3 linked regions of the Homo sapiens genome follow. The protein of the gene in region 2 purifies or fractionates together with the protein of the main gene of each other region. This does not show direct contact. Each region holds a gene or a part of one and is shown on either strand. Other genes may lie near its edges. The genes, in order: NAA20, SWAP70 and RANBP3.

Region 1 (3,552 bases), on a different chromosome or scaffold from region 2:
ACTGTTTATATATATATAAATACAATTGATTTTTATACTGACTTTCTATCCAACAACCTTGCCTACCTTTTATTAATTCTAAACATTTATTTCTAGATTCTTGTGGATTTTATATTTGTATAATCATATCTGTGCAAAATAAGTAAGTTTTGTTTCCTCTCATATGTAAATACAATTGATTTTTATACTGACTTTATATCCAACAACTTTGCCTTTTATTAATTCTAAATATTTATATTCTTATGGATTTTATATTTATATAATCATATCTGTGCAAAATAAGTTTTGTTTCCTCTCAATCCTCCTATCGTTTATTTTTTCCTGCTTTCCTGTGCTATAATTTCTAGTAAATTACTGAAGCGGGACTAACTTGTCCCTAATTTCAAAAGGAAAGCATTCAGTGTATCACTACTAAATATATTTACTACAAATTTCTTGTAGATATTTTTCAGGTTAAGGAAGTTCCCCCTTTCTATTTCCCAGTTTGCTAACAGTTTTTATCAGGAAGGAATATTGGATTTTATCAAGTTTGCTGCACTTTCTAAAATAACCAGTGTTCTCCTTTAGTGTAAAGTTGAAACCACCTTGTTCCTGATGTGTCATCCTATTTATGTAGTGCCAAATCCACTTTGCTAATTATTTTTCCGAGATTTTGCATCTGAGTGAGATGTTCCTCGAATTTTCCTTTCCCATATTTTGCCAAGTATTGTTATCAAGGTTATCCTGGCCTTAAAAAATAAGTTGAGGAATGTTCCCTTTTTTGGCTTGTGCAAAATAGTTTGTGTAAAAGTGACCTTTCAGTCATTATTTCTTAAATGTTTAGTAAAATTGGCCAGAGAAGCCACAGCTTTCTTCGTGAAAAGATTTTGGGCTACTGATTGAAATTCTTTAGGGCAGGGGTTGGCTTATAACCTATTTTGCTACTGCCTTCAAGCTAAGAATGGTTTTTGCAATGGTTGTTAAAAACAAAACAAAACAAAACAAAACAAAAAACTATGTAACCAAGACTTTAGGTGGCCTGTAATGCCTGAATATTTACTATCTGACCCAGAAGAAAATTGCTGATTCTTGTTCTATAGGCTTGACAAATTTCTATCTCATTGTTCTATCAATTAGAAAAAAGCATGTCTAAATCTCCCATTATAATAATAATTTGTCTATTTCTCCTTGTAGTTTTGTCAATTTGTGCATTTTTACTTTGAAATGATGTCACTTGGTATATACCATTTTAAATCGCTATTTTTTTTTTTTTTTTTGAGATGGAGTCTCGCTCTGTTGCACAGGCTGGAGTGCAATGGCGTGATCTTGGCTCACTGTAATCTTCGCCTCCCAGGTTCAAGCAATTCTCCTGCCTCAGCCTCCCGAGTAGCTGGGATTACAGTCACGTGCTACCACACCCGGCTAATTTTTGTATTTTTAGTCGAGACGGGATTTCACCATGTTGGCCAGACTGGTCTGGAACTCCTGACCTCAAGTGATCCACCTGTCTCGGCCTCCCAAGGTGCTGGGATTACAGTCATGAGCCACCACTCCCAGACTTGTTACTTCCTTGATTAAATATTTTATCAATATGCAGTGACCCTTTTTTATGCTGGTAATAATTATTCAACTATAACTATTATTAATAAGTATTCTAACTTTCTTTTGGTTAGAATTTGCAAGGTAATTTAAAAATTTACTTTCAATCTTTCTGTATTAAAAATATTTTAATATATTTTACACATATTTCCTGTAAACAATACAGACAGCCTTTGTCTTTTAAATAGAGTCATCATAGCTGGCCGTGCATGGTGGTGGGCGCCTGTAATCCCAGCTACTCAGAGGGTGAGAGAGGAAAATCATTTGAGCCTGGGAGGCAGACGTTGCAGTGAGCTGAGATCACGCCACTGCACTCCAGCCTGAGCAACAGAGCAAGACCCCATCTCCAAAACTAATAATAAATAAATAAAGTCCTAAGTCCATTAACGTTTACTGTTGTAATTACTGACAATATTTGGATTCTGGGCTACCATTTTATTTCATGCATTTTGTTTTGCTGGTTTAATTTCCTTTTTCTCTTCTTTGGAGTTGACTTCTATCATTCAATTTTTCTTCTCCTCTACTTGTTTGGTTTCTATTTTTAATGTATACATTGTATGCACTATGTATACATGTATATAGTGTATATAAGCATATGTATATGTATCATGTATGTGTATATGTATATATATGCCTACAAATGAAGATTACTTAAATCTTAGCAACTAGTCTAAAATAATGAAGGCTTAGAAACTGGAAGGGAAGAGAGCTTAGTGGTCTTCTACTCAGAGGGAGAATCTATCATACAAATACCCTAAATTATATGTGCAAGGTCATAGCTAGTTACGACCTGCTTTTTTTTATTATTATTATACTTTAAGTTCTGGGATACATGTGCAGAACGTGCAGGTTTGTTACATAGGTATACGCGTGCCATGGTGGTTTGCTGCACCCATCAACTCGTCATCTACATTAGGTATTTATCCTAATTCTATCCCTCCCTTAGACCCCCACCCCCGACAGGCCCTGGTGTGTGATGTTCCCCTCCCTGTGTCCATGTGTTCTCATTGAACAACCCACTTTCTAACTCCCTGTTCACTATACAATAATGCCAAATACTTTTTTTCAACATAATGCCATTAATAAATGTGTGTAAACTATAATCATGCTAAAATTTTCTTCCCTTCTTTGTTTGGTCTAGAGAGAACTTTAAAAAATCTTAAAGATTAGCACCGACTTCTTTTTCAGCTAACACAATTTCTTCTCTGAATGAGTTTGAGCTCCTTTGCCTCTAATTTGGCTTGAAGTCTTTGTCAGGCCACAGATACTTCTTTAAAACTTGCCTTTATTAAATCTAATAATTAAGTAGAAATTAAGCTCAAGAACCCTTCTCAGCAACTATTCTCTTTCCTACCACACTTTTAGGAAATTACAGTGGAGAAAGAAATGGCAGCTTGACAACAGGTGAAGCTACTACAAACATCTCTCTTCTAGAATGAAGATACGAGGAGGGGCCTTCTCTTCTATTTATTGTATTTCTTTTATCTCCAGTAATGAAGAGGTTTGATATATACAACACGTCCCTTAAAAAAAAAAAAAAAAATGCCATGCTGGCAGTTCGCAAACTGTGCACTCAGGTGCCCTAAGGTGTCCCAAACTCATACAGCCACCAAAGGATATTTCGAATGTTCAGGGAAAACAGCAAAACCTTACATGTCAGATATTGGCAAACTAGTTTGAAGTAGTTCACAAATTCAACGTAAGATCATGCTACATTCCTCTTAATGACATAATATTTCTATGAAGCTGAGTTTCTGGCAGTTGCTGTGATTAAAAAAAAATACTAGATGAAAATCAATATGAAACAGGAATGCAAGTGGTTCTGCCAAGTCATTTAATGTCCAACAGGTGCACACCTCTCATTGGTAGCTAGCCACAGTTATTTAAGAATGAAATGAAAATATTTCTTCTTTCAATTTATTTTTTTTCTAAATGGCTATTAGCTGTTAGGCTATAAATACTTATTAAACAGTT
Region 2 (3,655 bases):
CCTGCTCTAAGCTCTCTCAGTTTCACCCGTTTGTGAAATAAAAAATAACATTTATCCAGAGTTTAATGTGTGCCAGGAACTGGCCTAAGAGTCAAGTGTATTTTCTCAATTAATCCTCACAGTAAATTTAGGTGCTGCTACTCATATTTTAGAGATGGTGCAAGTGAGACACAAAGGTTCAGTGGCCTGTACTAGGATCATCCACCTGCCAGGTGGCAGGGCCAAGATTTGAAGTTTGCCTGGTTGCTACAACATGAAAACATTTTCATCTAGTAAAAACCTGTTACCATGGAAAAAGCTGATAATGAAGATGAAGAAAGGAGTGAACGCAGACAGAATAGAGATACTATTTATTGAACAATTGCTACATGCCAGGCCCTTGCCTCCATTATTGCTAATCCCCTGACAATCCTGAAAGGTATTGTCCCTACATTACAGATGAAGCAATGAAAAACCAAAGGGTTTAAAAGTATGTTGCACAGGTTATAATGGATTTTAACCCAGGTCTGTGTGACTCCAAAATAACAGGAATACCTATCTGGGAATACCCAGCTATGTAGTTGTTTAAATAAACTAACAAACAGCCAAAACCTGCATTAAAGTGTATATAGTGTCGTTCGATGCCAGCCAAGGACAGGATACATATCTAGTGGCTTGAGCAACAATATTATGGTAACAAAGTCAAGTCACATGACTGGTCAGTTACTACTACCTGCCAGCATCTGCTCTTATAAAACTAACAACAAAGGAATAAAGTAACAGACTATACCAACACCAATTTCCAAATTCCCTCTACAACTTCCTGCAAGGTTGTTATTCAACTCAGCTCCAATACTCTAGGTGATGGGCTACCACTCGTTGCCTCACAAATTGGGCCAGTTTATTTATGGGCAGCTTCAATTCTTACGAAGTTTTTTCTTATACTAAGATGAGTTCTCCCATCCACTACCCTAGTTCCACAAAGGAAGTATCTACTCCCTCTTCCCTGTGATAGCCCTTTCGCAACTGGAAGGCAGCTTTGTTGCCTGTTGAGAACATCCTTCTCCAAGAAGACCACCTCCAGCCTTAACTAATGGGACCCAGCTTCCAGACTCAATATCCTTCTTTGGAGACACTGAGGTCTCCTCAGATGTCTCTTGGAGTTTGATGTACACAACAGAACACGACACTACAGATGTGGTCTGACCAGTGCAGAGTTTATTCACTCAGTTGATGTGTATTTTTTATGTGCCTTCTACGTGCTTTTCTAGGCACTGGGGATATAAGAATGAACAAGACTGGATGGGTCTGTTTTTTCATTCTAGTGGTAAAAGTATGGAGGGGGAATGGACATTTCCAGGTGCTTAGGCTGCCCAGCCTCTGAACTCCTTCATGTGTCTAGGGGAACTGCCATAGTAGAAGACTTGATGGAAGGTAGGGCTCATTTCCCGCTATAGAATCCACAGGCCAGACACCTGCCCTCCCACCCCTTGGCAGCTAGGGTATGGTGGAGGCACAAGCTGGGCTTGGCTATGTAGATGCTCCTTCTGGAACTTTGACTCTGAAGCACCTGGCACAAAGAAGCAGAGCCAGTAGAGAATTCATCTTGCCGGTGGCAGTAATATGCAGTGTTGAGTGACAGCAGGAGCGATGGCACTGCTGATGCCTGGTACCAACATGGGCGCCAGCGGCATCCTCACTGGACTCTTCCCATGGCCTGGCTTGGGCTGTAGTTGGGGCTGCTCATCCCCCTGTGATTCCTGCCTGTGTTCAAGGCCTGGTCACCTGCCTTTCTGTGGAACTGGCAAACTATTTAAGAAACTTTCAACAAATTGTTTTATTGCTTTAGCTAATACAAGGTGGTTTCTGTGGTTCGCAAGTAAGACTCCTGACTAAAGACTTCAGTGCCTCACTCTTTTTCTGTGTATCGGCTTCCTCATTTATCAAAAAAGGAATAGAAACTACACCTACCATCAAAGGTTTATTAGTGTATTAAATGCGATAATGCACATAAGGTGTTTACATGCCTACCACACAGCAAGTACTGGTAGGTAACAGCTCATATTATAGAGGGACAATTATCTCATTTGCTCTGGACACTTCACATTCATTAAGGCTGCCTAAGAGTGTATAGGGTTTTGGCAACCACATTTCAGGGAAATGAAACTGTAGAACTTTTCAAATGAATTTCTATAAAGCCAAGTCTCCTGGATCCTGTACTTGTTCTTTTGATATGTTAAATTAGCTTCTTGGTCTAAAATCATCATTCTAGCCTGTCAACATCTTTTTTCTGAATGCTTATTTTTACATTCCACACATTATATATCTTCCCCGTCTGCAAATGAGATAAAGGAACAGAAAGCAACACACTCGGAGTGACTCCCAAATGCTAGGCATTACTCTAAAACACTCTGCATGCATCATTTCATTTCATCCTCACAACAACTGTATAAAGTTGGCCATTCTCTCAAGTTACACAGCTAAAAGTACCAGAGCCAGGAATCAAACCGTGGCCTCATTCCAGAGCCCAGTCTCTAACCTTCAAATATATGAAAAGTATTATATCAAATGTAAGAGGGACTGTTGTTCCATGTGGTCCCATTGGATCCATTCATTCATTCAAAAAAATTTCCCTGGGTACTTACTGTGTGCCAGGTACGAGTTGCTGGGAATACAGACACGACTAAGGTGTACTCCAGGGTGTTACAGATCCAAAGTGGGTAAGAGTTACAACAGGACAGATTATGGCTCAGCCTCAAGAACTTTCCAATAACTCGATTTTTCTTAATTTTTTCTTTTTTGTTTTTTTCTTTTTTGAGACAGGCTGGAGTACAGTGGTGCAATCTCAGCTCACTGCAACCTCTACCTCCTGGATTCAAGTGTCTCAGCCTCCCGAGTAGCTGGGATTATAGGCATGCACCACCACGCCCAGCTAATTTTTGTATTTTTAGTAGAGACAGGGTTTCACCATGCTGGCCAGGCTGGTCTCAAACTCCGAGCCTCAAGGGATCCGCCCGCCTCAGCCTCCCAAAGTGCTGGGATTAGAGCGTGAGCCACCATGTCCGGCCAATAACTTGAGTATTCTACATTTTAAATGAACAGTTTTCTTCTGAGTTCTCATTCAGAAGTGGCTAGATCACCTTCAGGATTACACATAAAAAAATAAACTTCATAGCAGAAAGGGTGACTATAGTCAATCATAATTTAATTGTACATTTAAAACTAACTAAAACAGTATAGTGGACTGTTTGTAAGACTAAGGATAAATGCTTGAGGTGATGGATACCCCATTTACCCTGATGTGATTATTACACATTGTATGCCTGTATCAAAATATCTCATGTACCTCACAAATATAAACACCTACTGTGTACCCACAAAAATTAAAAGTTAATAAAAAACTTCAATCGTAATTTTTAAAATTACAAGATCTGGCCAGGTGCAGTGGCTCAAGCCTGTAATCCCAGCACTTTGGGAGGCCGAGGCGGGTGGATCACGAGGTCAGGAGATCAAGACCATCCCGGCTAACACGGTTAAACCCCGTCTCTACTAAAAATACAAAAAATTAGCTGGGCGTGGTGGCAGGCGCCTGTAGTCCCAGCTGCTCAGGAGGCTGAGGCAGGAGAATGGCTTGAACCTGGGAGGCAGAGCTTGCAGTGAGCCGAGATCACGCCAC
Region 3 (3,655 bases), on a different chromosome or scaffold from region 2:
TGGCCTCTCGGTCAATGCTTCATACCAATAACACAACGTTACAAAGCTGACGTTTTGGGGGGTTTACTATGAACATGATAGAAGCAGAATTTCTTGAGGGCCTCTTTCCTACCAGCTGCTATGCTGAGTCTGTCAAATGCACGATCTGCTTTAATCCTCACGAGGCCTGGGAGGGGGATGTTAGGGACCCTGTTTGACCAACAAGGAAGCAGAGGCTCAGAGGGTTAAGAAACCATGGCTCTGGCTGGGCGCGGTGGCTCGTGCCTGTAATACCAGCACTTTGGGAGGCTGAGGCGGCGGGGAATCACTTGAGGTCAGGAATTCGAGACCAGCCTGGCCAACATGGAGAAATCCCCACCTCTACTAAAAATACAAAAAATTAGCTGGATGTGGCAGTGGGCGCCTGTAATCCCAGATATTTGGGAGGCTGAGGCAGGAGAATCGCTTGAACCCAGGAGGTGGAGGTTGCAGTGAGCAGAGATCATGCCACTGCACTCCAGCCTGGGCGACACAGCAAGACTTCGTGTCCAAAGAAAAAAAAAGAATCCATGGCTCAAGTTTGCCCTGGAAGGAGAGGCTGGGATTTGACTGAGACTGCGAAGTGCACGTAAGCCTCTGACTTCTGCAAGAAGCCAACCCCACCAAATTCAAAGCAGCTGTCTCCCCAGACTCAAGGCAGAGATTCCACAGGGCCTGAACTCCACAGGCCAAGCCCTTCCCCGCCTCTTGCCCTCCCTCCTTGGAGGGAACAGCCCCTGAGGGACTCATTATTTTGCCTAAAGCCATGGCAACAGCAACATCAACTTTCCACGTTTCTCGACTTGGGCTTCTGTTGGACGGTGAGTAACAGAAAGGAAAGCAGAAAACACAAGCCGGTGCTTTCTGCATGCTAGAGAGGTTTTTGTTTATTTCAGGGCCCTCCCCGTCGACACTACTGACATGTTGACACTGGGCCCAGAACATTCCCTGTGGTGTGGCTATCCTGGGCACTGCAAGGGGCGGAGTGGCATCCCTGACCTCCAGAAGTACCTCCCAGTTGTGACAACCACAAAAGTCTCTAGACACAGCCACCGATACCGCCTCTCGAGCTTTGAAAGAAGCTTCTTGCCAGTGGAGCTGCTAGAGATGCCGTAGCACATTCCATGTCTGTGGCTGGGAAAGGTGGTGCTGGCTGACCCTGGTCTTCCTAGAGTCCCAGTGCATGGTCCAGGGCCACTGTTTCCAACCACTGCCATCCCTTCCCCACCACACAATCTCCAAACTAGGACCACATGTCTGGAGGGCAGCCAAGAGGTGGCAGACGCTTTGCTCCCTTTCAGGAGAGAAGACAGTGTTGTCACCCCACCCTGCCCCACTTAAAAAAAAATAAGGTGACAGTTCTTAATGGGGGCGATTCTACTCCACAGGGAATACTGGCCACGTCTGGGGACATTTGTGGTTGTCAGATGTCAGGAGCATTGGGTGGGTGGAGGCCAGTGATGCTGCTCAGCACCCTGCAGTGCCCAGGGCGACTCCTCAGAAACTAAGAATGGTCCAGCCGTAATGCTGCTAGTGCTGAAACAGAGAAACCCTGAAATACGGGAACAGAAACCTCTGGGCAGAGCTGAGAACACTGGACCGTGCTGTCTTTCTTCTCTGCTATGAAAGCCTGAGGCCTCAGGTTCAGTCACCTTCCCTGTCCCCGCTACCATGAGAACCAGGGACCCTGACTTGAGAAGTCACTGCAGGTGAGGGCTCCGAAGCCTGGGCTGCTGGTGGGGAAGTGCCAGGGCCCAGCACACGCACACCAGCAGCAGACTGTGCCGTGAGCCATGGGGCTGCCTCGCTAACACCTTCTTTGTCCCACGCTCCCCTCCCCTGTTAAAAGGAAAATCTACCTACTTGCCTGCTGTTGAACCTGGGGAAGGCATAAAAAGTCAATGTGCTGGTTCAACAGCTCACATACCTTAACTCTGTCCCTCAAGTTCTGCCCAAATACAAAGGCTTGCTGTGTGGCGGGGTCTTTTTTCTCACAGGCTTCCTCTTCAGAGGCATTGCTGGACTCATTTTTCTGGGGCTCTTTCTCCTATCAAAAACCAAAACAAAACAGAGTAATCAAAACCAGTGCCACACTTGGCCCAGACGGATGCCCAGCAATCCCACACCAGATCATGTACTCCACACGTCTCCTCTGCATGTGCCTGCACTCCCAGCTACTCAGAAGGCTGAGACAGGAGGACTGCTTGAGCCTGGGAGTTGTAGTGAGCTGAGATCACACCACTGCACTCCAGCCTGGGTGACAGAGCAAAAACCTGTCTCCAAACAACAAGAAACACCTGTGCCCTGCAGAAGCCTTAGTGCCGGCAGAGGACAGGAAATAACCTGGTTGCTCATCATTGGCCAAGGAATGAAATAATTTACAATAGAAAATATGGGGGAAAAAAAGTACAGCACAGCTATTACCACCGAGAGGGAGGTAGGCCTCTGACATGCCCACAATACATGGATCAGAGAAGAGAGCAGCTTGTGGGACACGGAAGTGCGATTCCATTTCTGTTAAAGCCAATCCAGTCCCGTGTGTGTGGTGTGTGTGTGTGTGTATGTGTGGTGTGTATGTGTGTTGAGGAATGCCCAGGAAAATAAGTCGGGAGAGAGAATTCAAACTACTGACGGAGGTTACCCGGGAACCTCTTAGCTGGAGGGTGGCTCCTGCTTGTTACTTTCTAGGATTTCCATTTTGTGTAAATATTTTCAACATGTAGGCATGACTTTTTTGTAACTAAATATCCTAAGACCAAATGCATTTATCTTGAGATAATGGAATATGGAGTTGCTAGTAATTTGTATATGTCTTTCCTATACCACATGATGAAAAAGGTGTTGTAGAATTTGAAAAGAAATTTTAAAAGGCTTTTGGCAGATCTTTGGAGTCTCTGGCGATGTGTACAGTGGACATGAACGTGAGGCAGGGAGTGTTTTCCTGGGAGATGTCGTGAAGGGACCTGACAACCGTGAACTCGGAGGTGAGAAAGGCTGCAGGCAGCTTCTGACTGGCTCAGCGTGTCCAGCGGGCAGGGAAGCCTGGAGTTACAATGCCAGGCCCAGAATCAGCGGATCACAGCGCTGAGGGCACTTTCTGGTCCAACTGTGAAGGAAGTGAAAAGTGTAAATGTTTCTCTACTGTGCTCCCTAGAAATTCTGCTACTGCTGACTTCACGCTGCATCCTTGTGCCTGTGCAAGAGTGAACGTGGCTTTTTAAAATTAAACACACAACGTGTTTGGCGACCTGGAAGTCCTCAGAGGATGGGCTAATCCCCAGCCCCACTGGGGCCGCCTGCATCCCGTCCAGCAGAAACACTCCCTGGCTCTTGGCTTTCTGCGCTGTGTGCCCCCTGCTCACACCGACTGGTGCTAATCCCGGGTGGGTGGAGCCCACAGAGTCACCTGAGATGGGGCAGGCAAACAGCAAAATGTTTCTGACTACAGGGTATGTCTATGACCTGGCGGAGCCTGCTTAGAGGATTCGCTTAAACTGATAAACGAATCCCGAGGCCTGTAACCAGTCTGAGACTCTGTGTGTGTGTGGGGCGGGAGGGGAAGCCTCTTCCCCACTTTCCCAAAGACGGTACCAGGAGTTCCCCCATGGGTCGCCCCCAACATCTAAGCCCTCCTTAG

The links.
Region 1: the proteins of SWAP70 (region 2) and NAA20 fractionate together in Homo sapiens (co-fractionation; one large-scale study listed by BioGRID). This does not show direct contact.
Region 3: the proteins of SWAP70 (region 2) and RANBP3 fractionate together in Homo sapiens (co-fractionation; one large-scale study listed by BioGRID). This does not show direct contact.

What each region holds. Positions count from the first base shown.
Region 1 is NC_000020.11:20,027,321-20,030,872, reverse strand, and holds part of NAA20 (N-alpha-acetyltransferase 20), read right to left. Parts: intron 1-3,552. UniProt on the Homo sapiens protein: Catalytic subunit of the NatB complex which catalyzes acetylation of the N-terminal methionine residues of peptides beginning with Met-Asp, Met-Glu, Met-Asn and Met-Gln. Proteins with cell cycle functions are overrepresented in the pool of NatB substrates.
Region 2 is NC_000011.10:9,744,019-9,747,673, reverse strand, and holds part of SWAP70 (switch-associated protein 70), read right to left. Parts: intron 1-3,655.
Region 3 is NC_000019.10:5,926,023-5,929,677, forward strand, and holds part of RANBP3 (ran-binding protein 3), read right to left. Parts: intron 2,066-3,655; coding exon 1,946-2,065; intron 1-1,945. UniProt on the Homo sapiens protein: Acts as a cofactor for XPO1/CRM1-mediated nuclear export, perhaps as export complex scaffolding protein. Bound to XPO1/CRM1, stabilizes the XPO1/CRM1-cargo interaction. In the absence of Ran-bound GTP prevents binding of XPO1/CRM1 to the nuclear pore complex.